Linked DNA regions of Homo sapiens. The protein of the gene in region 6 interacts with the protein of the main gene of each other region in a biochemical or structural test. Each region holds a gene or a part of one and is shown on either strand. Other genes may lie near its edges.

What was found.
Region 1: of the proteins of MBP (region 6) and STK3, one has a biochemical effect on the other in vitro, tested with the Homo sapiens proteins (one study listed by BioGRID).
Region 2: of the proteins of MBP (region 6) and PRKCB, one has a biochemical effect on the other in vitro, tested with the Homo sapiens proteins (one study listed by BioGRID).
Region 3: of the proteins of MBP (region 6) and MAP2K1, one has a biochemical effect on the other in vitro, tested with the Homo sapiens proteins (one study listed by BioGRID).
Region 4: of the proteins of MBP (region 6) and PTPRA, one has a biochemical effect on the other in vitro, tested with the Homo sapiens proteins (one study listed by BioGRID).
Region 5: of the proteins of MBP (region 6) and IRAK4, one has a biochemical effect on the other in vitro, tested with the Homo sapiens proteins (one large-scale study listed by BioGRID).
Region 7: of the proteins of MBP (region 6) and PRKCD, one has a biochemical effect on the other in vitro, tested with the Homo sapiens proteins (one study listed by BioGRID).

Annotation. Positions count from the first base shown.
Region 1 is NC_000008.11:98,455,797-98,459,393, reverse strand, and holds part of STK3 (serine/threonine-protein kinase 3), read left to right. Parts: intron 1-2,100; coding exon of another isoform or gene 2,101-2,103; exon of another isoform or gene 2,104-3,155; coding exon of another isoform or gene 3,156-3,209; exon of another isoform or gene 3,210-3,393; coding exon 3,394-3,552; 3' UTR 3,553-3,597. UniProt on the Homo sapiens protein: Stress-activated, pro-apoptotic kinase which, following caspase-cleavage, enters the nucleus and induces chromatin condensation followed by internucleosomal DNA fragmentation.
Region 2 is NC_000016.10:24,093,841-24,098,659, reverse strand, and holds part of PRKCB (protein kinase C beta type), read right to left. Parts: intron 4,498-4,819; coding exon 4,363-4,497; intron 1-4,362. UniProt on the Homo sapiens protein: Calcium-activated, phospholipid- and diacylglycerol (DAG)-dependent serine/threonine-protein kinase involved in various cellular processes such as regulation of the B-cell receptor (BCR) signalosome, oxidative stress-induced apoptosis, androgen receptor-dependent transcription regulation, insulin signaling and endothelial cells proliferation.
Region 3 is NC_000015.10:66,389,912-66,393,411, forward strand, and holds part of MAP2K1 (dual specificity mitogen-activated protein kinase kinase 1), read left to right. Parts: intron 1-3,500. UniProt on the Homo sapiens protein: Dual specificity protein kinase which acts as an essential component of the MAP kinase signal transduction pathway.
Region 4 is NC_000020.11:3,029,789-3,034,607, forward strand, and holds part of PTPRA (receptor-type tyrosine-protein phosphatase alpha isoform 1 precursor), read left to right. Parts: intron 1-4,819. UniProt on the Homo sapiens protein: Tyrosine protein phosphatase which is involved in integrin-mediated focal adhesion formation.
Region 5 is NC_000012.12:43,771,644-43,776,462, reverse strand, and holds part of IRAK4 (interleukin-1 receptor-associated kinase 4), read right to left. Parts: intron 4,284-4,819; coding exon 4,101-4,283; intron 3,552-4,100; coding exon 3,391-3,551; intron 2,499-3,390; coding exon 2,434-2,498; intron 1-2,433.
Region 6 is NC_000018.10:77,125,703-77,130,521, reverse strand, and holds part of MBP (Golli-MBP), read left to right. Parts: exon of another isoform or gene 1-2,162; intron 2,163-2,873; exon of another isoform or gene 2,874-4,819. UniProt on the Homo sapiens protein: The classic group of MBP isoforms (isoform 4-isoform 14) are with PLP the most abundant protein components of the myelin membrane in the CNS. They have a role in both its formation and stabilization.
Region 7 is NC_000003.12:53,184,351-53,189,169, forward strand, and holds part of PRKCD (protein kinase C delta type), read left to right. Parts: intron 1-523; coding exon 524-624; intron 625-1,253; coding exon 1,254-1,350; intron 1,351-1,576; coding exon 1,577-1,677; intron 1,678-1,816; coding exon 1,817-1,990; intron 1,991-2,253; coding exon 2,254-2,345; intron 2,346-2,989; coding exon 2,990-3,052; intron 3,053-4,369; coding exon 4,370-4,508; intron 4,509-4,707; coding exon 4,708-4,819.

The DNA.
Region 1 (3,597 bases), on a different chromosome or scaffold from region 6:
AACCATCTATTTGTGAATCCATAAAACTGAATGCTTTTAAGAGCACCCATGTCACATCTTGAACACTTTGCTGCTTAGAAATTTATTCCCCCAGATACCCTATCATCTCTTTCAAGTTCAAAGTTTCACAGATCTCTAGGGCAGGGGCAAAATGCCACCAGTCCCTTTGCTAAAGCATAGCAAGAGTGATCTTTGCTCCAGTTGCCAGTGAGTTTCTCATGTTCGTCTGAGACCACTTCAGCCACGGCTTCATTGTCCATATCACTAACAGCATTTTGGCCAAAACCATTCAACAAGTCTCTAGGAAGTTCCAAACTTTCCCACATCTTCTTAACTTCTTCTGAGCCCTCCAAACTATTCCAACCTCTGCCCATTACCCAGTTCCAAAGTTGCTTCCACATTTCAAGTATCTTTATAGCAGCGCCCCACTACCTCAGTGCCAGTTAACTGTGTTAGTCCATTTTCACACTACTATAAAGAAATACCCAAGACTGGGTAATTTACAAAGGAAAGAGGTGTATTGATTCACAGTTCCATGTGACTGGGGAGGCCTCAGGAAATTTACAATCATGGTGGAAGGTGAAGGTGAAGCAAGCCTGGACCTTCTCACGTGGTGAGAGGGGAGAGCAGAGTGAGATTGAAGAAGGAAGGGCCCCTTATAAAACCATCAGATATTGTGAGAACTCACTCACTATCACTAGAACAGCATGGAGGGAAACTGCCCCCATGATCCAATCACCTCCCACCAGGTGTCTCCCTAGACACATGGGGATTATGAGGATTACAATTCATGATGAGATTTGGGTGGGGACACAGCCAAACCATATCAGTAAAGTCTTAGGTTACAAAATCAGTGGTACAAATCAGTAGCACTATTATATACCAACAGTGACCAAGCTGAGAATCAAATCAAGAACTCAACCCCTTTTACAATAGCTGTAAAATAATTAATAATAATAATAGTAATAGCAATAAATTACCTAGGAATATACTTAGCCAAGAAGGTAAAAGATCCCTACAGGGAGAACTACAAAACACTGTTGAAAGAAATCATGCATGACACAAATGGAAATACATCCCATGCTCATGGATTGGAAGAATCAATATTATGAAAAAGACCTTACTGCCCAAAGCAGTCTACAGATTCAGTGCATTTCCTATCAAAATACCAACATCATTTTTCACAAAATTAGAAAAAAATCCTAAAAGTCACATAGAACCAAAAAAGAGCATATGTAAATACATGTGTGTGTGCACATGTGTGTGTGTGTGTGTGTGTATATGTGTGTGTATGTGATATTGAGACAAAGTTTTATCACTTAAAGAACTAAGATTTAGGTACTTCATTAATTTACTTACATGAACACCTAATTCCTTAATAATGTTAGATAATGTTTCTCTAATATCACAGACCTGTTTTTCACAAATTTTACGCATTGATAATATAAAAATCTGTTAAAGGAAGAAAATTTTTCTTCTAAGTAGCTTCTTTTTCTGAGTTCAGTCTATTACTGCAATACAATATTTATAAACCTATTGGCAGTTTGCCCCAGTAAAAGTAGTACAAGATATTTACAGGAATATCTTAATTCAGAATTAAAGTAATGATAATTGTTTGCTTTATATAATATGTTAGTTCTTCTGATCTTAGAGTAACCCACTCCTTTGGGTCATATATTCTTATTCATATTTATCTATCTACGTTTACGTCATGTTATTTGCAGTATAGTAGGATAGTTTCTTGGTGTATGTACAGTCTCTAAAGTCTAAGTATTTTTTGGAATATCTAGGGACATGAAACTCATGCATAAAAATCAATTATAAAATAGTACATGATTTAGAATCAAATACTAAATTGTGTTGTTTAAATTATGAGTGTTACATAGAAATTTAGAAATGGGAAAGATTAACATGGGCTGAAATAGAGATGATGTTGAAGAACACAGAAGTGGAACTGGATCCTACATAGACATAGTTGGGCATGTCTTTCTTGGGAAATGTGGTTGTGTGGTATACATTGGCCTTTCAATGTGGCCATTACCGATGTGTACAGTTCAAAGTTTGGAGTTTCCCTGTTTGTCTTATTCTGTATCTCCACAGTGATTTGAACAGCACTGAGCATGTAACAGATGCAAGATCACTACTTGGATTAAAAATCAATGAAGAAAGTGTATAATACTACATATGATATATAAATGTATGTTTTATGGCATAATATTAAAAGCTAGGTTCTTTCATGACATATGACTACAAAATAACAGGGCTGATTATTAATATACATACCAGAACTTCTTATGCACCGAAGTGAGTGGCATTCACCTTCAAAGTCATCATCATGGAAGCCTGCATACTCTTCTCCATAACACTGTCATTTCTCAAAATATTTTTGGAACTCCTTTTTTGAATTTCCTTCAGAGAGTCTATGACTCATTCTTTTCAGTATCCTCAGAGTCTTTTTCAGCTAAGAGTGAATTTGGTTTTTGGAAGCAGAAGTCACGATAGGGCCAGGGATGGCGAGTAAAAGGATCTGCTGAGAAATGCTACTTTGGATGACTATAAGTAATGAGTATTTTTCCTAGCTTGACTCATAAAATAACCAAAGGCAATTATCTTCTTAAAACAAAAAGTAAGTTGCAAGTTTTATCATTTTAAAACCAAGCCTGAGCTGGGTGCAGTGGCACATCCCAGCTACTGAGGAGGTCAAGGCAGGAGGATCTCTTGAGCCCAGAAGTTTGAGACCTTGTGTCAAAAAAAATAAGAAGAAGAAGAAGAAGAAAAGAAAACCAAATCTGGATTACTCTTACATAACTGTCCTACTCCAGAATTGATCATGGCTTCCTGCTTTTGGGGCCCCACCAGGCCTATTCAGCCTTACTTCCCGCCCCCTACCACAGTCATCTTCTTTATTAAGCATTTAGTAAAATGGAGGATAGAATGGTTAATTTAACCTTTATTCAGTCTTGTCACATTCTTGAGTGATCTCTGCAAGTGTTCATGATTATTGTAGCACTCAGTAGCTGGCAAAGATGTAAAAAGTTAGAGTGAATATACCTGGAACATATTCTGAAAATCTGTTTGTTGGCAGTGGTGGATTTGTCTTTGTACCTTTTTACAAATTCCATCAGCGTATTTTTCTCATTTGCCCTTTATTAAAGGCAGAGGATCGGATTGCTTCATTGCAGATTACTGGAGGTTCTTGCAAGATATGACCTCTGAGTTCTTCAAGGAAGAAATTCCTGTTTTAATTGTTGAACTATACTTCAAAGATGATGTAAAGAATTTGCTGAAATATTTATGTTAAAACTCATTAGACATTAAAGTCTAATTTCATTGTATTGATTGTGGATAATGTGGATAATTTCATTGTATTGGTATCTTTCTTTCTGTATCTAGTTGAAAAATCTAAGTTTAGAAGAACTACAGATGCGGTTAAAAGCACTGGACCCCATGATGGAACGGGAGATAGAAGAACTTCGTCAGAGATACACTGCGAAAAGACAGCCCATTCTGGATGCGATGGATGCAAAGAAAAGAAGGCAGCAAAACTTTTGAGTCTAATTTCCTCTCTGTTTTTAACTATTCTGGAGACCAAGAAAC
Region 2 (4,819 bases), on a different chromosome or scaffold from region 6:
TTCTGCCTCAGCCTCCCGAGTAGCTGGGAATACAGGCACCTGCCACCATGCCCAGCTAATTTTTGTATTTTTAGTAGAGACATGGTTTCACTATGTTGGCCAGGCTCGTCTCAAACTCCTGACCTCAGGTGATCCGCCCGCCTCAGCCTCCCAAAGTGTTGGGATTACAGGTGTGAGCCGCCATGCCTGGCCAAAATCTTTTTTTTGTTTCATTCTAGTAGATAACCCCAAAGCTTATGATTCTATTGTCCTGTATATCAGTCAGTTTTATATTTAACTGAGCAAAGTTATTTCAGCATATCTTTTTCTACTGACTACACGAACATCAGTTTATCAAACCTTCTGTGGAATCATTCATTCATCCTGCTGCTTTTCTCCTTAGTGAGCTAAGGAAATCTTTGGCCAATGCCCATTAATGCCCATTATCTATCTTATGAGAACTATGTTTTTAACCATTTGTGAATTGTGCTTTAACACAACTCTTTTGGGGTACATTCTGTAAACCAAAATAAAATTCTAAGCCCCCTAGCCATGTAAATGGACCCCTTCTCTCAGCCAAGGGCATTCCAAAGTTAACCTGAAAAACTGTTTCAGGCCATGATGAGAAGGGAGAGTCAGACACGATGTCTCATTATATCCCCTTCCTTTTGGAATTCAGGAAAAGCCAACCAGCATTAACATCAACACAGACCTTAAGTCTGATAAGAAACAATTACCATCTAGTCTCTCTGAAGCCTGCTACCTGGAGGCTTCATCTTCATGATAAAACTTTGGTCTCCACAACTCCTTATGTAACCCAGACATTCCTTTCTATTGATAACAGCTCATTCAACCAATTGCCAATCAGAAAATTGTAAAATCTACCTATGACCCGGAAGCACCTCCCCGTCCCACTTTTAGTTGTCCTGCCTTTCCAGATTGAGCCAATGTAAATCTCACATGTATTGATTGATGTCTTACGTCTCCCTAAAATGTATAAAAGCAAGTTGTACCCCATCCACCTTGGGCCCATGTCATCAGGATCTCCTGAGTCTGTGTCACTGGCACATCCTTAACCTTGGCAAAATAAACTTTCTAAACTGATTGAAATCTGTCTCAGATACTTTTGGGTTCAAAACTCTCAGCTCCTGTCTTCTTCACATCTTCCATCATGTTGTCATTGATTTGTCATTTGCGTAATTCCTTGTTCAATGTTTATCTCCCCAACCCACCCTCTGCCATAAGCTAAGCTCCATGAAGTCATGTCTGTCTTATACCTCCATGTGTTTCTAGTGACCAGCACCTAGTGGACACTCAATATATGTTTCAAGAAAAGCCTAAGATAGGCTGGGCACGGAGGCTCACACCTGCAATCCCAGCACTTTGGGAGGCCAAGGCAGGCAGATCACAAGGTCAGGAGATCGAGATCATCCTGGCTAACATGGTGAAACCCCATCTCTACTAAAATTACAAAAAATTAGCTGGGCGTGGTGGCGGGCACCTGTAGTCCCAGCTACTCGGGAGGCTGAGGCAGGAGAATTGCTTGAACCCAGGAGGCAGAGGTTGCAGTGAGCCGAGATCACACCACTGCACTCCAGCCTGGGTGACAGAGCAAGACTCCGTCTCAAAAAAAAAAAAAAAAAAAAAAGGCCTAAGATGAAACATGGAGCCAAGACAAGGAAGTCATAAGGTGAACAATGGAAAGGAAAGATGTGTGTGTGGTCCAAAGGACACATCTCTTTCTCGCTAAACCAGTTTGATTTTTATTTTCTTTCACTTGAAGCTGAAAAGGTCCTGAATGAGACAATTCAGATATGAGACAATTTATCTTAAAGAAGTAATAGCAGCCCAATTGCCACTTCTCCCAAAGTTATAGTGCCAGGTTAAGCTATTTCTTCTGACTCCTTGACTCAGTTAACTGTGAAACAGTTGCCAAGGGGGCTTACCCAGCCTCTCTGTTGGTAACATTGGAGGATATATATATATATATATATATATATATATATATATATATTTTTTTTTTTTTTTGCCATAGGAAGGGAGCAAAATAAAATCTTCAGGACAAAGGAGACACAGCAGCTGACTATGAAAACAACACCCCAGTACATCTATGATCTGTGGCCAGACTTGCTAAGGACTCCCAAGGAAGCGGTAGCTTCTCAGACACCATCTGACAGTGGGTTGCTCATATCTTTCAGGTGAAGTGTACAAGCCACTCTAGTGTCCATGGAGCCAGTCATGGAACTGTCTTTGCAGAAATTGTAACAGGGAGAAAATGATGACGTCAGTGAAAGAGATTTGATCTAACCAACCCCCAGCTTGCCTTTAACCTCCAAACTGCCCTTACGCTTTCCTGGGCTCGGGCCAAGTTAACTTTGTGACAAATTTAGTGTTTATTTTATTTTATTTCATTTTATTTTGAGATGGAGTCTTGCTCTGTCACCCAGGCTGGAGTGCAGTGGCATGATCTCGGCTCACTGCAACCTCCGCCTCCCTGGTTCAAGTGATCCTCACATGCCAGCACACCCAACTAATTTTTGTATTTTTAGTACAGACAGGGTTTCACCATGTTGGCCAGGATGGTCTCGATCTCCCGATCTCGTGATCCACCCACCTCGGCCTCCCAAAGTGCTGGGAATACAGGGGTGAGCCACTGCGCCCGGCCTAGTGTACATTTTAAATGATAATAGCCCTTGCCCAAAACTAAACTACCTTCATAAAGCTAATGAGGGACCATGAGGTTAGGAGGATGAGAGGAGCCTGAATTCTGCTAAGGTGTAGACATAAAGGATTACCAGCCATTATTCCAGAGGTCACAAGATTTGCAACTTTCCCAATGACCCCCGCAGATAAGATCACTATTGTAGACTGGCCTTTTGAGATGTCTCTTCAGGTTTTTTTGCATTTCTCGTAACCAATGGCTCCACCCCGACCAGACCGCCAACCTAACTTTGAAAGAAATTTGTTGTATATTTTAAATTATGACAGCCCTTTCCCAAAACTAAACTGCCTTTGTAAAACTAATGAAATATTGCCAAGTTAGGAGAATGAAAGGAGCCTGAATTCTGCTAAGATGTAGACATGGATTATTATCAGCCTTTATCCCAGAGCTCACAACACTTCCAACTTCCTAAGTTACTCCTACAGATAACATCACTACTGTAGAACTTGAGATTGGCCTTTTGAGATGTCTTTTCAGGCTTTTGCCTTCCTGACAACCAGACTGCCCCACCTGGACCTGCCAACTAGTCCTGTGGCCCCACCCAGAAGTGGACTCAGTGCACGAGGACCATTTTTCACACCCCTATTACTGCATCCCCAACCAGTCAGCAGCACCCATTCCCTAGCCACCCTACTCCTTGCCAAACTATCTTTGAAAAGCCCTAGCTTCCAAATTTTCAGGGAGGCTGATTTGAGTCATAAAAAAACTCTGTTCTCCCATTTAGCTGGCTCTATGTGTGTAAAACTCTTTCCCTATTGCAATTCTCCCATCTTGATAAATCGGCTCTGTCTGGGCAGCAGGCACAAAGAAGCCACTGGGCAGTTACAGTCTCATCATGTAGTTTAGTAAATTGGCCCAGATGTAATAAAATAGGGAGTGGTGAGGACGGTGACAAATAGAAAATCCATGTCCTGTCTAAAGGGGGCATTAACTATTCAACTGTTCTCAATTGTTGCCTTCTAGCCCCAGATTTTTAAAATACTAGAACTAATTCCCTCCCTCCCTCCTTCTGTCCCTCCTTCCCTTCCTCCCTTCCTTCCTTCCTGCTTTCCGTCTTTCTTTCTTCTTTCTTTCTTCTTCCTTTCCCTTTCCCTTTTTCTTCCTTTCCTTCCTTCCTTCCTTCCTTCCTTCCTTCCTTCCTTCCTTCCTCCCTCCCTTCCTTCATTCCTTCTCTCTCTCTCTCTTTCTTTTTTATCACTCTGTCACCCAGGCTGGAGTGCAGTGGCTCAATCTCTGACCACCTTGCTCACTGCAACCTCTGCCTCCAGGGTTCAAGTGATCCTCCCATCTCAGCCTCCTGAGTAGCTGGAACTACAGGCACACACCACCATGCCCAGCTAATTTTTCATGTTTTTGATAGAGATGGGGTTTCACCATGTTGCCCAGACTGGTCTTAAACTCCTGAGCTCAAGTGATCTACCTGCCTCGGCCTCCCAGAGTGCTGGGATGACAGGTGTCAGACACGAGGCCTGGCCTCTTTCTTTTTTGTTTTTAGTACAAGGACCAAACAAAACATATCTGCAAGGCAGATCCAATCAACCAGACTTCACTTTGGGACTCTGTTTTAGTATTTCAATTTTTGGAGAAAAAGGAAAACATACTTGACCCCGCGTTTGATGGAGCAAGCTGTATGGTAGCTTTCAAGGCAAAATCTTACTTACCAGCCATCAACACTGGCTTTCTGAAGTTCAGAAATCCCAAAGGACAAAGATCCCATGAAGTCATTCCTGCTGGTCAAATCCCAATCCCAAATCTCTACTGACAGTCTTCTGTCTTTGTCCGATTCTTTCAGCTGACTGCATAGAGAAAAAGAAAAGACATCAGTGGAGGTTGTAGTAATTTCTCAAGCAGAATAAATGTACAAGAGGACAAGACCTGGAGGTAGAAAGTTTTAAAGATTACAAGCTGCTGAAAGAAACATATTCAGTTTCCATCCCAGGCTAGCTCTCCAGGGAGTGAGAGCTTTTTCTGTTTGACAGCCTGTGGCTTAAACAGGCAGAGGTCTTAGACTGGCTATGACAAGAACAGTTCTAACTACTTTTGTTATCTTATGTCTTAATAGGGTTCAGGATATTCAGGAATTCCTATTGCCTATAAGAAATACAGATATCAATTGCA
Region 3 (3,500 bases), on a different chromosome or scaffold from region 6:
TTTTTTTCATCTGCAAAAATGGGGCTAATGATAGAACCTACTTAGCATAGTTGTGAAGATTAAATGAGGTAGTACATAGTAAACTTCCAAAGCTGTTGGCTGCTGGTGCCTTTGTTACTGCCTAAGTGTTGGACCAAAGGAAACTGGAAGGTGATTTTCATTCATGGTGGTAGATTATGTGTTAAGGTGCCTTTGCTTCTGGACAATCAACTCTCCCTAGTTTGGTTTTTTGTACCATCTGCATCTACCTCTATGACTCATTGCTGTGTTACAATAGGAGGCATCTTTGTGTAGGCTGCCCAAGACAAACAGGGACTGTTTCCCTGTGTTTCATAGCACTAATGAGAGGGAAAGCTGTACACATCTTCATCTTTCACTTCTGAGAGTGTTCCTCAAGCAAAATGTTCCCTATCTTGGGCTACCAGCAGAAAGAATTCTGTTGCTTTCATGATTTCTGTGATTAGACCAGGGCACAATTTTGAACGTTATCAGACAATGTGAACTAAAGAGGAAGAAAATCCATTTTGACAGTAAAGAACTCTTGGTACCAAATTGGCAAGGTTGCTTTTCCCTTGGCACCTGTGCTTACCTCTAACATAGCCCTTACCCAGTTCAGAGATGGAGTTGGGTAATACGGGACCTGAAGTTGATGCAAGTTGTAGGGGTCCTCAAAGAAAAATCATGCAAAAATAGCTTTCTTTTGTGTATTTTGCAGAAACATGTGAGCATATTACTAGGGTCTTAAGTGTTAGAATGAGATAATGAGATAATATTGTTCCTCTGTTTAAAATGTTCTTCTGGTTCTATTGCAGTTACACAAAATCCAAACTCCTTATATTGGACTATGAGACTGAGTGATCTGCCTGTTGTCCCCACCACCCCCTCCCACCAATCTCTTTAACCACATTTCCTGCCACTCCTTTCTTCCACCACACTAGTCCTCTTTCACTTCCTCTATGGGATGGTCTATACGCACTGCAGGCCTCTGTACATGCTGTTCCCTTTGCCTGGAATGAATCACTCCTCCTTCCCTAGGTAGGCAGGAAGCAGTCTTCACCTATTTGCCTAAATGTCACTTCCTCTGAGATGTTTATAAGCATCTCAGAGGAATGTGGTCCCTCTTTGTCATGTCACCTGAGCTGCTGCTTTTTTTTTTTTTTTTGGTATGGGGGTCTTGGTATGTTGCCCAGGCTGGTTCTTGAACTCCTGGACTCCAGTGATTCTACCACCTCAGCCTCTTGAGTAGCTGGGACTATAGGTGGGTACTACTGTGCCTGGCGCTCACCTGAGCTTTTAATAAGACTTAATCATTGTAATTTTTCATTGGGGTGTTCTTAATATTTATCTCTCCTGTACACTATAAACTTTAAGCACAGCACTGCCTTTTTGTTTTTTGAGACGGAGTCTCGCTCTATCGCCCAGGCTGGAATGCAGTGGCACTACCTCGGCTCACTGCAAGCTCCGCCTCCCAGGTTCATGCCATTCTCCTGCCTCAGCCTCCCAAGTAGCTGGGACTACAGGCGCCCACCACTGCGTCCAGCTAATTTTTTGTATTTTTAGTAGAGATGGGGTTTCACCATGTTAGCCAGGATGGTCTCGATCTCCTGATCTCGTGATCCCAAAGTGCTGGGATTACAGGCGTGAGCCACTGTGCCCAGCCTGCACTGCCTTTTTTTGACTCACCACTCTGTAAGTACACCCAAAATAGTTCTGGCACATAATAGGTCCATAGATGTTTGTTGAGTCAGTGAGTGAATGAAATTTCTAATATTTGCACAACGGGTTTAATAAACCTTTTTATGTCTTTTCCTTTTCTTTTCCCCTTTATGCTCATTCCTTTTTTCCCCATTTTCTTTTGTTTTAGTCACCCACTCAACCATTCTAAGATATTTATATGGTTTTATAATTCCACCTGTTAGTCTGGTTATGTGTATACCCTTGGGAAGTAGAAGGATGGTTTTGTATGTATCTGCTTAGGATTCTAAAATGTTATTGTGCTACAAATCTGCATTTCATAGACAGGATAGAATAGGTTATGTTGAGGTAACAACCACAAAATCTCAGTAATTTAACACACTTTCAGGTCAGTGGGAGGCTCTGTAGATTGGAGTCCTTTAGGGATCCAGGCTGATCGAGGCATCGTCTCTCAAGTATACCTACATGAGGAGGGAATCTTGTGAAGAGCTACATTCAGGCTCTTAAAGTTTTGCCTAGAGGTGAGCCTTGTCATTTTTGCTGCCATTTCTTTGGCCAGAGCAAATCATGTGGCCATGTTGACCTTCAAGGAGGGCAGTGACCTTTTTGGAAGGGGGAGAACCACGAATATTTGTGTGTTTTTTTTGGGTTTTTTTTTTTTTTTTTTTTTTTTAAGAAAGGGTTTCGCTCCCACTGCCCAGGCTGGAGTATAATGGTGCGTGCCACCACGCCCTGCTAAGTTTTGATTGTTTTGTAGAGATGGGGTTTCACCATGTTGCTCAGGCTGGTCTTGAACTCTTGGGCTCAAGCGATCTGCCCACCTCATCTTCCCAAAGTGCTGAAATTATAGGTATGAGCCACTGTGCTGGTGCACCAGGAGTATTTGAACAGAAGCAATGACCATCCCTAAATTTTATATCAGTTTCTTCTTTGTTTTCTTTTCTTTTCTTTTTTTTTTTTTTTTGAGATGGAGTTTTGCTCTTGTTGCCCAGGCTGGAGTGCAATGGCATGATCTCGGCTCACCGCAACCTCCGCCCCCCAGGTTCAAGCTATTCTCCTGCCTCAGCCTCCTGAGTAGCTGGGATTACAGGCATGTGCCACCGTGCCTGGCTAATTTTGTATTTTTAGTAGAGACAGGGTTTCACCATGTTGGTCAGGCTGGTCTCGAACTCCTGACCTCAGATGATCCGCCTGCCTCAGCCTCCCAAAGTGTTGGGCTTACAGGCGTGAGCCACCATGCCTGGCCTTAGTTTCTTTTTTTAACCAATTTTGTTTTGAGCTCTATTCATGATGCTATACAATATGTGTCTAGTTCATTATTTCTCTTGGTTGTAGAGCAGTCATGTTTGCCTGCCACATTTTACTTATTTATTTCTCTAGAATTAGACATCTTTGTTGTTTCCCAACCCCTTGCTGCCTCAAACAGTCATGACCATGCCCATCCTTGCACATCCTTGTCTCCTTTGGATGTTGTGAGAGAGTTTCCTGTGGAATGTACTCAGAAGTGGAATTGCTGGGTCTTAGGGTACATTGTCTCTCCTTCCAGGATAAGGCATGTTATCTCTTTCTCTCTCTCTTTTTTTTTTTTTGAGACCGAGTCTCACTCTGTTGCCCAGGCTGGAGTGCAGTGTTGCAATCCTGGCTCACTGCAACCCCTCCCCACAAGGTTCAAGCAATTCTCCTGCCTTAGCCTCCTGAGTAGCTGGGATTACAGGTGCCTGACACCATGCCCAGCTAATTTTTATATTTTTAGTAGAGACAGGGTTTCATTATATTGCTCAGGCTGGTCTCCAAGTCCTGACCTT
Region 4 (4,819 bases), on a different chromosome or scaffold from region 6:
AAGTGCTGGGATTACAGGCGTGAGCCACTGCGCCCAGTGTCTTCATCATCATTAATAACAATACTGATGAGGTGGGAGGTTCGGTTAAGGTGCTTGGCTTTGCACTCAAGGAAGCACACACCTGAGTAACAAAAGCTGTTTAGGAAATGAGCCACTGTGTTCTCAGGAGCTAGGTGCCTGTTCCTGCCGTCTCTGATCAGTCGTGATGGAACCTGCAGATCAGACCAGGGCCCTACCTGTGGTTCCTTCTGCACCCCTGCCCTTCAGATCTGTGATGGGCAGGACCAAAGAGCAGGCCGAAGAGCTGGAACCACGAGCACAAGGACCATCTCGGCCCACTGCCCTGTGATAAAATGTGGCCCAGTGAACATCTCCGCCTCTGTCCAGTCAGATGCAGGCTCTTCCATCCTTGAAAAGGACCTAGTGAGAGTAAAGGGCAGGGGGCAGGAAGCATTTCATGTGTGTGGCGGTGGGGAGAAGAGTCGTGCGCACACAAATTCTGCTGCCTGTTGAGTGAGGCCTCTCCCTCTGCCTTCCACTGTAGCTTATGCTCTGTCTTCCTAGGCCAGTGAAGCAGACAGTAGTGCTTGCCCTCAAAAGCTTCTGAGTGGATTGGAACAGGATGTTAGTGATGTTCTTTACAAGGCCTCACTGGCCCCCAAGTTCACTTTCTGTTCCATTCATGTTGTCAAGTGTAGCTCCCAGAAGTAATTAACGCACTAAGCCTAAATGATGCAATGAAAGGTGCCTACACTTATACAGTGACACTACCATCCTCACCTACAATATTAAGTTCCCAGAGAAAAAAATTCGATCCCATAATATAAATTCTGTACTTACAAATTAAAATCTCGAAGGAATTAAAAATTTTTAATTATCTCCCTCTGCTTTTTTTTTTTTTTTTTTTTTTTTTTTGAGATGGAGTCTCACTCTGTCCACCAGACTGGAGTGCAGTGGCACAATCTCAGCTCGCTGCAACCTCCACCTCCAGGGTTCAAGTGATTCTCCCACCTCAGCCTCCCGAGTAGCTGGGATTACAGGCATGCACTACCATGCCCAGCTAATTTCCATAGTAGAGACAGGGTTTCGTCATGTTGGCCATGCTGGTCTCAAACTCCTGACCCCAAGTGATCCGCCCGCCTTAGCCTCCCAGAGTGCTAAGATTACAGGCATGAGCCATTGCGCCTGGCCTCCTTCTGCTCTATTTTAATCAAAAGGGTCCACCAGGATGCCTGGGTTCCCTCAGCAGCTGCAGCTTGGACCATCATCAGCCTGGGCAGACAGAGCAGTGCCAGGAACTCCCATGCTGGGTCAACCCTAGGCCTAGCCCAACCCTAGGCCTCATCCTGCTTCTCTAAAGCATAGTGAAACCTGATAGCATTAGTCTTCACAAAGCTGTGTGTCCCCATCACCATGTCCGCCTTAGACCTCATAAGAGACATAAGACATAAGAGACTTCATGCTATCTGGTGGAAAGACAAAGTAGGAGAAAAGACAGAAAACCTTCCCTGTTTCACTTCTTTAAGATGCTATTATCTAGAGGCCGTAACGTGAACACACAAATCTGAGATGAAACTCCAGTCCCCAGCTTTTCTTCTACTGGTCTTGAATCCCCATTCCCCATCTTCTGTCCCTCACCCACTGATGACTTTAACACCTGGCTTACTGCTCCTTTTGAGCCCCTGTTCCTGACTCTGCTTTTGGAGGCATCAGTCACCATGTGGATGATCCATCTATCCTCAATCTTTCTATTCCTCAGCTTCCTCAGCCACCTGATCCCATGGTCAAGTCACCATCTGCCCTGTATCTGCACTGCCCTTGGAATCTCAACAAGGCATCCGCCCTGTTTACTGCCTCCTTCCTCCCACCTCAGTATTCTCTTTTATTCCAGTCATTTTTGTCTTCATCAAGTCCTTAGAGTTATTGATGCCTCCACTTTCTCAACATCAGTCACACCGAACATGTCCTCACCTTCCTCCTTACTCTGTGTGTTTTTGAGTTCTGTTTTTGAGCGTTTGAGTTTTCTGATTTGAGTTTTTGTGGTATGTCATTATTACCTTTCCTTATTCCCTCATGCTTTCTTACTTTCATAGCAAACTCTCTAGTAAAACCCAGTTATATGCCTCTATCTGATATAGCAAACATCACTGGGCAAAAACACAAAACAGTGCCAAATGCTCTCACACTGAACTCATGACCACAAATCTCATAGAGGTAATTGGTGCCACCTAGCAATGCTATTGCTCTTTCTTTTCTTCCTGAAACCTCCAGCATCTGCTCTTGCCTGTCCCATCATACTCACACCTTAGCTTGTGACCTGGCCTCATTCTTCTCCAAGAAATCAGACAAGAACACTGTCATCCTCCCACCCCCAAACAACCAGCCTCTTCAAATCTGTACCAACTCTATTCTCTCTTGTTACAGTGGAAAAGGGTTTCTGCATCTCTCAATCCACCTGTCCACTGTGCTCTTGGCCCCATTCCGTCCTGCCTGCTCAGGGATGTTGCTGCTATAACCATCTTCTCTCCCACCTCCATCAGCAGTTCCCCTCTTTAACCACTACTCTCATCAGCCTATACATGTTACATTTCCTATCTTTTAAAAACAAAAAATCTGCTAATCTCACTTTCCCTTCCACCTACTATCCTATTTCTCTGCACCCCTTCCCAGCAAAACTCCTTTAAAGAGTTGGCTTTCGGCCGGGCGCGGTGGCTCACGCCTGTAATCCCAGCACTTTGGGAGGCCAAGGTGGGCGGATCACAAAGTCAGGAGATCGAGACCAGCCTGGCCAACATGGCAAAACCCCATCTCTACTAAAAATACAAAAATTAGCTGGGCGCGATGGTGCATGCCTGTGATCCCAGCTACTCGGGAGGCTGAGGCAGGAGAATCGTTTGAACCAGGGAGCTGAAGGTTGCAATGAGCCAAGATCGCGCCACTGCATTCCAGCCTGGTGGCAGAGTGAGACTCCATCTCAAAAAAAAAAAAAAAAGAGTTGGCTTTCTCCCTGCAAGTTCTCTGTTCGCTCTGTTCCTTCCAGGCTTGGCCCCACTGGGACTGCTTTAGTCAAGATCACCAGTGACTGTCCTCTTGCCAAATCCAAAGGTCATTTCTCTTTTCTGATTTTTTTTTTTTTGTCCTTACAGCAGCATTTGAAAGAGTCAGTACCTCCCTCCTCTTCCTCAGAACACTTACTTCCGTAGCATCACCCCACTCACTAACCTGGCAGCTCCTTTGTTATTTCTTTGTGACCTCCTCCTCTAAAACATTGGAGTATACTAGACTCGGGCGCTAGCCCACTCTGTTTTCTTTTGACACACTAGCCCTTCAGGATCTCAGCCAGTCCTATGGCTTTAAGTACAACCCATATGCCAGGGATCCTCAATCTGCGTCTCTAGGCCAGTCACCTGTCCCCCTTCCCAATGTGGGCTCCTGATTTCCTCCTTCCCCCGACACCAGTCCACCCCACTCTTAGCCATCTAAATAAATAGTACCACCTTCTGCCCAGTTGCTCATGTCTAAAATCCGGGAGTTACCTTCCTTCCTCCCCTCTCCTCACCCCTCACATCCAGTCTGCCACTGAGTCCTGATACAGGCAGAGCCTCCCCACTTTTCTCCAGCGTAACTGCTGTCATCTGAACAAGCCCTCGTCTCTCACTGCTTGCCCGTGGGACTGTGGGCATGACTCATATGCGCAGCCTCGTCTGCAGTGGCCTGGCAACTGGTCCTCCTGCTCTCATCCTAACCCACTTTTAGTTTTTCAAATGGCAGCTGCTGGTCCTTTTGAAAATATAAATCATTGTCACTCCTTGTCTTACAAATCCTGTTTGAGGCCAGGTGCGGCAGCTCACGCCTGTAATCCCAGCACTTTGGGAGGCCGAGGCGGGTGGATCACCTGAGGTCGGGAGTTCGAGACCAGCCTGACCAACATGGAGAAACCCCGTCTCTACTAAAAATACAAAATTAGCGGGCATGGTGATGCATGCCTGTAATCTCAGCTACTGGGGAGGCTGAGGCAGGAGAATCACTTGAACCCGGGAGCCGGAGGTTGCAGTGAGCCAAGATCGCGCCATTGCACTCCAGCGTGGGCAATAAGAGTGAAGCTCCATCTCAAAAAAAAAAAAAAAAAAAATCCTCTTTGGTCTTCCAGAGATCTTGAGAGAAAATCCGCCCATGTATACAAAATTTAGAGACTTTTGATCAGATGTGGTGGCTCACGCCTGTGTAATCCTACCACTTTGGGAGGCTGAGGCAGGTGGATCACCTGAGGTCAAGAGTTTGAGACCAGCCTGGCCGACATGGTGAAACCCTGTCTCTACTAAAAATACAAAAATTAGCTAGGCATGGTGGCGCACACTTGTAGTCCCAGCTACTTGGGAGTCTGGGGTGGGAGAATCACTTGAAACTGGGAGGCGGAGGCTGCAGTAAGTCAAGATCATGCCACTGCACTCCAGCCTGGGCGACAGAGCAAGACTCTCTCAAAAAAGAAAAAAAAAATGAGACTCTTAGTGTTGATACCTAGTCCCTAGACTTGATATGTATTTCTGTCTGAGAGATCATGCTCAATTCCTCCAGCACACACACACTGTGGCTCACACCCATGGGGACCTTATGGTTCTGATGGTTTTAAAGGCCCAGTCTTCATCCCAGCTGAGACACTGTGTAAAGCAGTGTTGAGAAGGCACTGTGGTAGCAAAATCCATTCCACCCACCAGTGCCATAAAAACTAATATAATGCCTGATCGAGGTGAGCCTTAATGAGAATTTTTTTTTTTTTTTGGCTGTTCTGGTTGAAGAGAGGCCCAGGGCACCGATCCCT
Region 5 (4,819 bases), on a different chromosome or scaffold from region 6:
CTAGTCTCATAAATATTTGAAGAAGTGCAAATTAAAACAGTAAGTGTCCCATTTTCCACCAAACTGGCACATTTTAAACATGAGTAGTTAACGTTTGCTGAATTTATACTATAAACGAGGCAGTGTGGCAAGTGATTTATCTGTTTTATTTAATCCTCACAATAACTTAAGTAAGTACTATTGTCCCATTTTATAGATGAGAAAATTAACGAATAGAAAGTTAAAAAACTTGGCCAAGTTCATTCTGCTAGTAAGATCCAGAGACTGGCACTTATTAAAAAATTGTAATAATAGGCCGGGCGCAGTGACTCACGCCTGTATTCCCAGCCGAGGCAGGCAGATCACGACGTCAGATCTAAACCATCCTGGCTAACGTGGTGAAACCCCGTCTCTACTAAAAATACAAAAACAAAATTAGCCGGGCATGGTGACGGTCGCCTGTAGTCCCAGCTACTCTGGAGGCTGAGGCGGGAGAATGGCGTGAACCTGGGAGGCGGAGCTTGCAGTGAGCCAAGATCGCACCACTGCATTCCAGCCTGGGCAACAGAGCGAGATTCCGTCTCAAAAAAAAAAAAAAAAAAAAAAAAAGTAATGATATTAAATGAAGGTAAGGAACCAGTAAAGTTTGAAATTGTAATACATTGCTGGTAGTAACTTATCTCAAAAGCCATTTGAATGTGTATTTAGAAAGTCTTTAAAAAGTTCATGCATTCCTACCTAGTAATTCTTTTTCTAGGACTTTACCCTAGATGATAAAGTAAGTATAACTGCATTTAAAGATTTATGTGCAAAGAACTTTAAAGAAGCTTTATTTTTAATACTGAAAATTAGAAACAAACCTAGCTATGGTTAAATAAAATATGATTTTCACATATGCTAGACTGTTGTACAATAATTTAAAATGTTTTCAAATTATTTTTAGTGACATGGGAAAATGCTACACACACATCATGAAGCAAGTATATAAAAATATTAGCAGTGGTTATCTCTGAGTGATATATTTGAGAGATGGTTTGTATTATTAAGTTCCGGGATACATGTACAGAATGTGCAGGTTTGTCATACAGGTAAACGTGTACCATAGTGGTTTGCTGCACCTATCAACCCATCACCTACGTATTAAGTCCTGCATGCATATAGGCTTGTATATTTTAAAAATGTTTTCCTGTATTTTCCAGATGACCTACTGTGAACAAGTTACTTTTAGAATTGGAGAGTAGGGGTAGGAGTGAAGAAGACAAATCCTGAAAAAAAAAGTTTGATCTTTTTTCAGCATGTATCATTTTTACCGTGCATAAATCAATTCTAGTCTATTCTTCTTACTTGAGGTTAGGTAACTATGATTGGTGATTTACAGCAGTGGGTTTAATGGGTATAATTTGGTAAATCCCATTACGATTCAGATCTAAAGTTCAGGCTCCGCAATCAAACAGATCTGGATTTCAATCCCATCTCTAACACTTACTGGCTATGTGATCTTGGACAAGCTATTTAATGTTTCTAAATCTCAGTTAACAAACAAAATGGGCAGTTGTAACAGTTGTAAGGGTTAGACAGACAATGCACATAAAGTACATAGCACAATGTCTGGCATGTTGCACACACTCAAATATCAATCACTATTAATCACTATAATAATTAGAATACATTTCCTACTTTGTCCCTCCTACTTTTCCTGATGATGTCCAACAATTTTCCAGCACACAGGATCAATGCCTTCTAAGCATCCTTACAGATAACATGACTCTAGTTGCTCTATAGATGCTACTTTATATATAAGGGCCTATTACTCTATAGATAGTTGTTTTTAAGTATCTCTACAATTGATCTCTCATGAATTCTGGAAGTGGAAAACATGATAATGAAGGACATGATAGTGAAATTTCACGTAACTTTGTTGTGACTTAAAATAATGACTGCGGCCAGGCGTGGTCACGCCTGTAATCCCAGCTCTTTGGGAGGCTGAGGCAGGTGGATCACAAGGTCAGGAGATCGAGACTATCCTGGCTAACACGGTGAAACCCCGTCTCTACTAAAAATACAGAAAAAAATTAGCCAGGCATGGTGGCACACGCCTGTAGGTCCAGCTACTCGGGAGGCTGAGGCAGGAGAATCGCTTGAACCTGGGAGGCAGAGGTTGCAGTGAGCCGAGATCATGCCACTGCACTCCAGCTTGGGCAAAAGAGCGAGACTCTGTCTCAAAAAAAATAAATAAATAAAAATGACTGCTATTTAATCTCCAGGCATATGAGTATATGTAATCATAGAATTATGGAGCCAAAAGTACTTTCAATTTCTCTAATCTAAACACTTTATTTTAATTTCATATATGTGCAAACATCACTAGTTCATGGCATACTCTAGAGTGAACCAGGTTCTTTACTCCTTGTCTTTTTTCTTTCCACTACACCGCACTGCCAGATTAAGACTTACTTTGCCATTACTTTTATTTCTTGATCAAACTGCTGTTTCAGTTCTTCAGTAGTAATGTCAACCATCTGAAAAAATAAAATATACAATGTAATACTACACAATTCTAAGGTTCCTAATGCTCAGAGGGATCAAGAGATCAGCTGGCTCATCTCCCTTTCTTTAAAACAATAGTGTATTATTCTCCCAATTCTACAGAATAACTGAGATCTAGAAATACTAGTGATTTGCTCAAGGCCCATGGCTGGTTAGTGGAATGAAAAATATATATAAATTTCACTGAGTTGTGGAAACAAAATGAAATAACACGAAATTTCACTACACAAAAAAATTTGAAAAAAATTCTAGGAAACAGAAAACATAAGCAATTTAGGTGCAAAATGGAAAAAAAAACCCTACAAAAGCCCTGCAACATATATGACAAAGAGTGACTATCTTTATCACATACATATGCATTCTATTGATATTTTTAGGCTCTAACAAAAGATTTAGAATATAACAAGTAAGTAAAAGGTAAACACCTCAGTAGAAATGGCAACAAAGGACACAGATAAAAAAAATTTTAATGTTTTTTCTTAATGTATACTTCCTAAATTTTATTTTTAAATGGGAAAAGTAATGCAAACAAGGTTTTTTAAAAATAGTTTTCCTGGTATCTTACCATTTTAATCTTGATTACACATGAAGCACTATGTGGAGCAGGGCTTCTCAACTTTAGTTTGTGAATCTCCCAAAATTGTATGTATGATCTTGTGTACATGGACATAACCACATTTTTCTAGGGGTAGGGTCCATAGTGTTCAACAGATTTTAAAATTTTAAGAACTACTATTTAGAATGATGTTTATTTAAAGAAAATACATACTGAAATAATGTATTTCCTAAAGATTAACTTTAAAACCTATTATAGGGCACACTATGAAGCAACTCTTTCTTTTTATTCCTGAAAATATAACTTACTGCTGCAAGCTTCTTCACTGCCACAGTTGTGTTATTTACGTAGCCTTTATATACAACTCCAAATCCTCCCTCTCCCATTTTATTACCACCAACAGAAATGGGTCGTTCATCAAAGTTATTTGTGACATTCTTCAATTCATAAAATGAAAAACTGTGAAAACCTATGTCAAAATAAGAAAAACATGCTTAAATTTTAAAAATTCGTTTTAATAATTATAATATTTTCTCATTTGAAGATTTCACATATATGCAAATATTTATGATTTTGAATTAGACAAGATGAGAGAAGATAAAACCATTTCTAAAATACAAATTATAAGTTTTTCTTGAGAACTCTGTTTGGTGATCCTACCCTCTGAACACTGTAGTCACCCACCCAAAATTCTAGTCACACATTTGAGTGGGTCTAGTCTACCTACCCAAAACTCTAGTCACATATTTTATTTTAAAAAGTGACCTTTCCAAGTTATGTAAATATTTACTTATTTTTTTTCATAGCTTCTCTGGTTGTTTGCATGTCCTATTGCCTCTAATCACTGATTAATACAATGAAGATGGTTCTTAATATATCAGGAGGAAACAACTCACAAAAGAGCTATTGCCAGTGTGCCTGTGATTGCTGCACAAACAAAAGAGCAAGAGCTTTCTTTTAAAGCACTGGTAGTCTTAATGACAAATCCCTAGTGGAAAGCACTGAAAATGTTACTTACGTGTATCACTAACTTCTAAACTTTTATTTTCTGGACTTGAGGAGTCAGGTGGCATATAGCTTTGTTCAAGATTCTGCACAGGTGTCATCAATGTCCTGTCTTTGTCACAGAAAGGCATCTGTTTTTGCTGAACTGTTATAGCTTCTTTAGAAGGTAGTGTATTAGCAGTTTTGGGAACAGCATCTAACAAATGAAGTAAGATACAAGTGGTTTTTCAGTAAGAAAAAGTGGTTGTGAAAAAGTTAAACTAGAAACTTGGTTCATTTAATATCATTCCAGTTTCTACAGGTTGGTCTCATATTCTCACAGCACACACAAGAAGCTGCCTAGTAAGAATCTGTAAGTTATAATGAAGATGGGTAAAGAGAGTAAGGCAGTGTTTTCAAACAGTGATCCATGAGCCACCTATATCAGAGGCACTGAAGCACCTGTTTAAGAATATAGACCTTAAACCCAATTCCAGAATTCTGATTACATAGATTTGGAACAGACCCTAGGAAACTACATGTTTAACCAGAACCTAAGTGATTCTTATGCATGATAAAGGTTGAGAACCACTGGTGTGAAAGGCATCAAAGGAAAAAAAGAAAGCTTATAAGGAAGGCAACTAGACACTACCACATCAGAATACAATTTTTTAAAATTATGATTATAGAGTCCCATCAGGGTAGAAGTTGAAGATGAAAAAAAGGAAGAACTCAAAATTATAATTACTTTCT
Region 6 (4,819 bases):
TTATCGACTGCTTGCACGTTGCCAGACTCTCTTTTGAGAGCGGTTTGTCACCTCGGATAACAGTCGGGACGGCCCTAGGATGCCCTCACTGGATGTCACCATCCTATTCATATCTTCATTTTTTACTGTTGAGGAAACAAGGCCCAGAGAGGTTAAGTTACTCTAAGGGCACACAAGAAGAGGCGGGATTCCATCCGGGGAGTCTGCACCAGCGCCTGACTGCTGCTCTGCACCGCCGTGGTGAGAAGGATGCCTTGCAAAGGTGCTCCTCGTTCCTCCTTTTAAAATTCCACCCCAATGATGAGTGAGTGTACCCAGAGATGTCCCACACAGGTTTCCTTTCAAGAATGATTTCACCATAAGGCTACTGTCATCCGTCTTTGTTCATCATCTTCTCCTTAGCTTTCTTAGTTGTCAATAAAAAAGAAAAGAAAATATTCTAATTACTCCTTTTCTTTTTCTTTTTTTTTTTTTTGACAGAGTCTTGCTCTGTCACCCAGGCTGGAGTGCAGTGGTGCAATCTCGGCTCACTGCAACCTCCACCTTCTGGATCCAAAACAGTCTCCTGCCTCAGCCTCCCCAGTAGCTGGGACTATAGGGGCGCACCACCACACCTGGCTGATTTTTGCGTTTTTTTGTTTGTTTTTGTTTTTTAGTAAAGATGGGGCCTCACCATGTTGGCCAGGCTGGTCTCAAACTCCTGACCTCAAGTGATCCACCCACCTCGGCCTCCCAAAGTGCTGGGATTACAGGCATGAGCCACCGCGCCTGGCCTCTAATTACTCTTGGGATAATTTTAAATAAGTGGCCATTAAGTAGTAAGACACTTCTGTTGGCCCATTGGAACCCGTGAAGGAAGCTCTGGAGCTGTTTAAGGGAAGAGTGCTCATGCCACAGGCCCTAATGCCAGCTGAGCAGAAATGCCAGGCGAGTAGCTGGAATAGTCTCTACAGGAGATTTTAAATCTCTGTCAAAACCTGTAGTGGACAGGCTTCATCCAGAGAAACAGAAGCAGGTGGAGATACACATTAGAGACTCATGGCAAGGAATGGCTTATGCAGAGGTGGGCTGGCCAGGTTTGTGGGACGTCTGTAGGACAGGCCAGCCAGAAGGCAGCTGATCTCCCCGGCCGACTGAAGCTGCCTTCCACAGCAACATCTCCCACATGCCAGCAACAACCACGAGTGCATGTTCCAAAGCTATTAGTAATGTCTCACACTCAATAGCCATTAAAGCGTAAAAATGTCATTCCGAATGTTCTTTTGTTCTGGACTCTGTGAATAGCACTGCGTTGGTCTGAGTCACCATTGTGAAAAATAGGTGGATATCTAAAAGATGAGGAGAAACAGACCTATGTGAGGCCAGGATCTAGAATACAGAAACAGTTCTAAAATGTGGTAATTTGAAACAAGCCACTCAAGAGTAAAATATGAGACTAATGAGAAAACCCAGATGGACTGATAAAATAAGAAAAGGACTTTAACCCTCTGGGAATCAGGGAATTCAAAACTAAGATGGCAAAAAGATTTTTTTTTACCTTTACGGTACTGGAAAAAAATTTAAATTGTGACTATACCAAATATTAGAGAAGGTGTAGAAAACTTAGACCTCACATGAGTTCGACTAGAATGTAAATAGGAACAAAGATGTTAGAGAATAATCTAGAAAAAGTGAAGGTGGGTGTATCCTAAGATCTAACAATTCCACTTCTAGGTATCTCCTCTAGGGAAAACCTGGTCTGTGTGCATAAGACACACACAGTGGATATTCACTGAAGCAATGTAGTAAAACCCTGTTTTGAGATCATGTAGATTCACATGCAATTCCCTTCACCAGTTTCTCCCAACAATAACATCTTACAAAACCATAGTACAATGCCACAACTAGAAAATGAGCATTGATACAACCCATTAACTTTGTTCAGATTTCAGATTCCACCAGTTTACATGTACTCATTTTATAGACTGCTCTGTGTGTGTGTGTGTGTGTGTGTGTGTGTGGTATGCACGTGCGCTTAGTTCTCTGTAATTTTATCACCCATGTAGAACCATGTGACCACCAACACATCAGAGGACAGGAGAGTTTCATCACAGGATCCTTGATGCTACTCTTTATAGCCAAGCTGACTTCCTCCTTCCCCCTCCCTGAGGCTGGCAACCACAGTATGGTTCCTATTTTCTATAATTTTGTCGCTTTAAGAATGCTCTATAAATGGAATCATACACTATGCAACCTTTCGAGACTGGCTTTTTCCGCTAAACGCAATTCCCTTGAGACCCATCCGGGTTGGCAAGCATGTCCATAGGTGTTTCTTTTTAATTACTTAGTGGTGTTCCGTCATCTGGATGAACCAAGGTGTGTTCAACCGTTCACCCAGGAAGGGCACTTGGATTATTTCCAGGTTTTGGTTATTGCAAATAGAGCTGCTGTGAACATTCTTGTACAGGTTTTTGTGTGAACATAGTTTTCATTTCTCTGGGATAAATGCCCAGGAGTGCAATTGCTGAGTCATATGGTTAGCACATGTCTAATTTTATGAGAAACTGCTAACTCTTTTCCAGAATGGCTACACCATTTTGCATTCCCACCGGCGGTGTGTGAGTGATTCAGGACCTTCCCAGCCTGGGCAGCATTTGGTATTGCCACTATTTTTTTTTTTTATTATTTTAGCTCTTCTAATAAGTGTGTAGTGATATCTCCTGATGGTTTAATTTGCATTGTCCTGATGGCTAATGACATCAAGACCTTTTTATGTACTTATGGCCATCTGTGTATCCTCCTCAGTGAAAAGTCTGTTCATGTCTTTTGCCTACTTTTTAATTGGATTGTTTGGTTTTAACAACTGAGTTTTCCTAATTCTTTATATTTTCTAGATGCTGGCCTTACCACTCGGTGATTATTTTCTACCACTTTATCTTGTTTTTTCACCCTCTTCACAGAGTCCTTTGCAGAAAGTTTTACATTTTGTTGAATTCAAGTTTATTAATTTTACCTTTTTTGGATTTTGATTTTTGGTGTGAAGTCTAAGTCTTCACCTAGCCTGAGGTTCCCGAAGATTTTCTCCTTTTTTCCCTACAAATTTTATAGTTTCACATTTTATACTTAAGCCTATTTTCCATTTTGAGTTAATTTTTGTATGAGGTGTGAGGTTTAGGTTGAGGCTTATTTGTTTTGGTTTGGTTTGGGTTTTGCCAACGAATGTCCAATAGCTCCGGGACTATTAGTTGAAAAGGTGATCCTTCTTCCATTAAATTGCTTTTGCACCTTTGCTAAAAACCGTTTCCACTTATTGCTGTGGGTCTATTTCTGGGTTCTCTATTCTGTTCCATTAGTCTATATGTCAGTCTCTCTGCCAAGAGCACACTGTCTTGATTACTGTAGTTGCATAGTCAACTTTAATCAGGTGGAGTGACTTCCTTCCACTTTATTATTCTTTATAAAACTTATGTTAGCTATTGTAGGTTCTGGGCCTTTCCATATGAATTTTAGAATAGCGCGTTTATGGGTGCAAAAACCTTGCTGGGATTTTGATAGGAATTTCTTCAAATGTATAGATTAGGGAGAATTAATAGTTCTACTGTGTTGAGTTTTCCAATCCATGATCACAGGTTGTCTCTCTATGGGTAATTAGGTCTTCTTTAACTTCTTTCATCAATGTTTTATAAATTTCAGTGCACAGATTCTGAATCTGAAATTTCTTTACAGTGTACATAAGTGTTTTATTTTCTTTGGGGCATTTCTAAATGGCATTGTGTCTTAACTTCAGTTTCCACGTTTATTGTGGAGTAGGTAGAACTGTGAGTAATTTTTATGTGTCAGTCCACATTCTGCAACCTACTGAGCTGCCTTATTAGATCTAGGAGGATTTTTTTTGGTAGATTTCTTGGGATTGTCTATGTAGATCATCATGTTATCTGCAAATTGGATAGTTTTATTTCTTCTTTCCAATTTATATACTTTTTATTTCTTTTTCTTATCTTACCGTACTGGTTAGAATGTCCAGTGCTATATTCAATAAGAGTTGCAAGAACTTGCCTTATTCTGACCTAAAGGGCAAAGCACTGAGTTTTTACCACCAATTATGATGTAGCTATAGGATTTTTATGGATGTTCTTTATCAAGTCAATAGTCCATGTCTATTCATGAATGTGTGTTGTATTTTGTCAAATGTCTTTTCTGGGACAATTTATATGTTCATGAGATTTTTCTTCTTTGACTTCATGGTATGATGGATAGTTGATTGACTGACTCTCTAATGCTGACCCACCCTTGAGTATCTGATATATATTCCACTTAGCCATGTATATAACTTTTTTATGTGTTGCTAGATTCACTTTACTAATATTTTGTTGAGGACTTTTGCCTCTAAGTGTTTGTGAGATATTGATCTATAGTTCTCATTTTTTGTATAGTCTTTGCTAGTTTCAGTATCAGGATAACTGGCCTCATAAAATGAGTTAGAAAGTGTTCCCACTTGTTCTAACTTTTGGAAGAGATTGTATAAAATTGCCATAAATTTCTCCTTAACTGTTTTAGTAGAAATTTCCGGTGAAACCATGTGGGCCTGGGGATTTCTTTCTTGGGTATTTCCTTCCTTCTACTTTGTTTGTATATATTTAGCTCTTTTTTTTTTGGTTTCTTGAATTAGATCTTAGATTATTGATTTGAGACTTTTCCTGCTTTCTAATATAAGTATTTCAGGGTATGAATTCCCTCTCAGCACTACTGAACTAGGTGTACATATTTTATCGAGTAAAAGTTTTGATACAAAAAAAAAGGAGGGAAACACACTAATTCCCCATGAGTAGGGCTATAGATT
Region 7 (4,819 bases), on a different chromosome or scaffold from region 6:
ACAACAACAACAACAACAAAAATCATGAAAGATTGAAATGCTTGGCCGGGCGTGGTGGCTCACACCTGTAATCCCAGCACTTTGGGAGGCCGAGGCAGGTGGATCACCTGAGGTGGGGAGTTCGAGACCAGCCTGGCTAACATGGAAAAACCCCGTCTCTACTAAAAATACAAAATTAGCCGGATATGGTGGCGCATGCCTGTAATCCCAGCTACTCAGGAGGCTGAGGCAGGAGAATCCCTTGAACCCAGGAGGCAGAGGTTGCGGTGAGCCGAGATTGCGCCACTGCACTCCAGCCTGGGCAATAAGAGGGAAACTCCATCTCAAAAAAAAAAAAAAAAGAGAGAGAGAGAGAGAGATCGAAGTATTTATGATGGCTTCAGATCAATGTTTTCCTAGAAACTGGAACCCAGCAGACCCCACTGAAGCCCTCCTTTCTCTTGCTCTCCTGCGCCTCTCCTACACTGCCCCCTGCCCTTGGCTGAGCTCTGAGACTGACAGCCCCGCTTCTCCCTCACCCCAGACTGCGGCATGAATGTGCACCATAAATGCCGGGAGAAGGTGGCCAACCTCTGCGGCATCAACCAGAAGCTTTTGGCTGAGGCCTTGAACCAAGTCACCCAGGTGGGCAGGTGCCATGGGGACCCTGGACACAGGGCAGTGGGGTCAGGGACAGTCAAGGCTTACAGCCACTGCTGGGGAGCCACAGACAGCCAGGATATATTTAGACCCAGGACTCTACTTCGGGAAGATGCAACTCAAGAATTTAGGCAGCAGAGGGAGGGGGGCTTTTTTTCATAAGAAATTCATTATTCAGGCAGTTCTTTACTTGAGGGTGAACCTGGGGACCACAGGAGTGGGTGTTGGAACACTTTGAACTAAGACTTTGGGTGTGGACGTTTGTATGTGGGGGGGGCTTGAGGGATGCCACAAAACCTAAAGGTAAAATTTTAGAATCAATCAGAAATGAAGCTAAATAGTCAAATAAAATCTATCGAGTGAGTGGTTGGGAAGGTAGGGTTCCGTTTACAAAACTTCTGTTTGTAATCAGAGCCTTTCAGACCACCAAGGCTTCTCTGGGCTCCTGGAAGAGTGCGTGTGTGTACACGCAGCCCGAGTAGGGGGCCTGGGCTGTGCCCCTGTTGTCTCCTCTTGGTGTTAAGGGTGGAGTTATACCTGGGAGTCTTCCTTCTGGGCTGGGAGTTCTGATAATGGTCTGACCATCTGGCCCCCCACCTCTGCTCCCTCCCCAGAGAGCCTCCCGGAGATCAGACTCAGCCTCCTCAGAGCCTGTTGGGATATATCAGGGTTTCGAGAAGAAGACCGGAGTTGCTGGGGAGGACATGCAAGGTGAAGCTGGGTCCATTGCCCCATTACGGTTTTTATTCCCCCTGAGGCCAAAGAAAGGGGACTGTCCTCCCTTCCATTGTCAAGTGAGACATGGAAGGAACCACCGGTCCTGGGGAGCGAGCCCCTTCCTCTCTGAGGCCCCTTCCCCCAGCCTACCCCAGGCCCCGGGGGAGGGGAGTTGTGTAGACTGAGACCCCGATCTGAGGAGGTGCCATCTCTCGGGCAGACAACAGTGGGACCTACGGCAAGATCTGGGAGGGCAGCAGCAAGTGCAACATCAACAACTTCATCTTCCACAAGGTCCTGGGCAAAGGCAGCTTCGGGAAGGTGAGGGCTGTGAGCCGGGCACCTGCTTCCCACCCCACCCTGGCTTCTTCCCGCTTAGGTGGCTGAGGTGGGAGTCTGTGAATCGGGCTGTGGCCCCTGCCCCGTCCTCACCTGCTCAGCACCCGTGTCTCCCCATCAGGTGCTGCTTGGAGAGCTGAAGGGCAGAGGAGAGTACTTTGCCATCAAGGCCCTCAAGAAGGATGTGGTCCTGATCGACGACGACGTGGAGTGCACCATGGTTGAGAAGCGGGTGCTGACACTTGCCGCAGAGAATCCCTTTCTCACCCACCTCATCTGCACCTTCCAGACCAAGGTGCCCGGGCCTCCTGCCGTCACCACCCCATGCCACAGCCATGTCCCACAGCTCCTCAGCCCCCCTCAGTCAGGGCTGTGTCTCCCCTTCAGGCCACTTAAGGCAGGGCCATGCTTTCCCCCCTCATGCCTCCCAGGGCAGAGTCGTCCACCTCAGCCAGGGCCTGTCCCTGCTGTTTCCTGTTGGGGCTTGGCCCCAGTGGCCCTCAGTGAGGGAGCCTCCTGCCTATTCCTCACCCCTGCTCACCACCCTTCCCACCCCAGGACCACCTGTTCTTTGTGATGGAGTTCCTCAACGGGGGGGACCTGATGTACCACATCCAGGACAAAGGCCGCTTTGAACTCTACCGTGCCACGTACGTAAGGGCCATGGTGGGGAAGGGCCCAGTGTGGAGGAAGGGCTACTGGCTCAGAGCCCACTTCCAGTCTGCCCTCCATGCCTTCTTCCCTCTCCCTAGAAAAGCCAGCCTGGGCTAGAGCGGCAACTGGGGAGATGTGGGGGTAGCCTGGGTCGGCACCACACAGGAAGCCATGGGTGGCAAGTGAACTGCGGCTGGGTGCGCAGCGCAAATACTCTGGGTCCTGGCCGCTCCGTGGGCCACAGCCAGGGCAGCCTTGCAAATGGTGGTCCTGCATGACACAGGACACAGGACCCTGGTGCGTGGCCCCCAGACCTGCTTCTCCCCATTCACATGCCCCTTACCCCAAACTAACCGTGTATGTGTGTGTGTGTGTGTGCATGCATGCAAACACATATGTACATGCATGTAAATGCATACACTCTTAGAGAATTGGCTCACTGAGAGCTTTCCCTTCAGAACTTTCTGCCTGGGCTGCCAGCCCCCACTTGCCTGATACAAGATGTACTTGATCATGCTCAGGTGGTCCATGGAGTTATTTGCAGCATTTCTTGCTCCTGGAAGTGGGGTTGAGGGCCCGAGGAGAAGCAGAGGCTGCTCGGCAGAGATCCCGGAACACTTTATCCCTCTCTCTTGCCCAGGTTTTATGCCGCTGAGATAATGTGTGGACTGCAGTTTCTACACAGCAAGGGCATCATTTACAGGTGCGGGGGTGAGGGCAGCGGGGGCTCTTGGGAGGGGAGGCTCCAGCCCCATCATATCTTCTGAAATGCTCCAAGCAGGATCCCCCCAACTCCAGTTCCTTCTCTGCTGGAAATCAATCTTTAGCTGGGTATTTGCCTATGCCTCCCACCCTGGTGTTAGCATTCCTGTGGCCACCATTTGAGGCTGGCTCAGCTTCAGGAACTAGGAACTCACTGCTCATATTTGACACCATCGCCCCACCCATCCTTGGAGCCGTCAGTCTCGCTCTGAAGCCCCATCGAGTCATCTAAGCTTCTGCCAGAAGGGACTCCTTCCATAAAGTCTCATCTAATAAGTTATGATTCCATCCTATGGTGGGAACTGTACACCCACCAAAAAGGCTGAGGTCAGGCTCTGTATACTGATGTGGGATAATGCCAAGATATGTTGTTAAGTGGAAAAACAACCTGTGGGAAAGTGTATATCGAATATTAGCATTCAGCCTTTAAAACGTGGGAGGGAGACTGAGCGCGATGGCTCACGCCTGTAATCCCAGCACTTTGGGAGGCCAAGGTGGGCAGATCACCCGAGGTCAGGAGTTCGAGACCAGCCTGACCAACATGGTGAAACCCTGTCTCTACTAAAAAATACAAAAGTTAGCTGGGCATGGTGGTGGATGCCTGTAATCTCAGCTACTCAGGAGGCTGAGGCAGGAGAATTGCTTGAACCCGGGAGGCGGAGGTTGCAGTGAGCTGAGATCATGCCACTGCACTCCAGCCTGTGTGACAGAATGAGACTGTGTCTCAAAAAAAAAAAAAAAAAAAAAAAAAAAGGTGGGAGCGAGCTGCATGCTGCCATATGCTTGTCCACGCCTAGAATTGCTCTAAGGAGAGCCTCATGATTGAGCTCAGTGGAAGGTAGACTTTGTACTGTTTGCCATTTCTAGTTCCCATATGCATTAAGTATATACTCAAATGACTAATTACTAAATATAGACATGGTCTCTGCCTGTGGGAAGTAGACAAACCTGAACCTGGGGGTCACTTCTGCTGCTGACTGCTAGGGGACCCTGGGCGAGTGACATCACCTGTTTGAGCCCCATTTGGGCTTCAGGAAGTAGGGCAGTGTATGCCCAGCGTTTAGCACACAGTAGGGGACTTGCAAGAAGCACCTGTTTTTAGGATCTCTTTCTCCTTCTGCTTCCTTTTCTGTTTCTCATTCCCTTGTACCCTTGGGGACAGTCCTGGACTAATACGGCTGAAAATTAGGACATGGGGGGCAGGGTTGGAAGGAGAAGAAATGTCCCCTGCTGACTCTTACCTGTCCCCTGTCCTTAGGGACCTCAAACTGGACAATGTGCTGCTGGACCGGGATGGCCACATCAAGATTGCCGACTTTGGGATGTGCAAAGAGAACATATTCGGGGAGAGCCGGGCCAGCACCTTCTGCGGCACCCCTGACTATATCGCCCCTGAGGTGAGCCGATACCCTTCCAGCCCCCCGCTCAGTCAGGCACCTTGCCTCCCCACGGTGGGCCAGGGAAGGATTCCCAAGGGCAGTGATGTCCAAGCCAAAGCCCATAGGCTGAGGCGGCCTGGCTAGGCTTCGTGCCCAGGGGCCCCTCTCAGCCTCAGCACCTCAGCTCCTGCTGACCTGCTGCTCTCCCCACCGCCAGATCCTACAGGGCCTGAAGTACACATTCTCTGTGGACTGGTGGTCTTTCGGGGTCCTTCTGTACGAGATGCTCATTGGCCAGTCCCCCTTCCATGGTGATGATGAGGATGAAC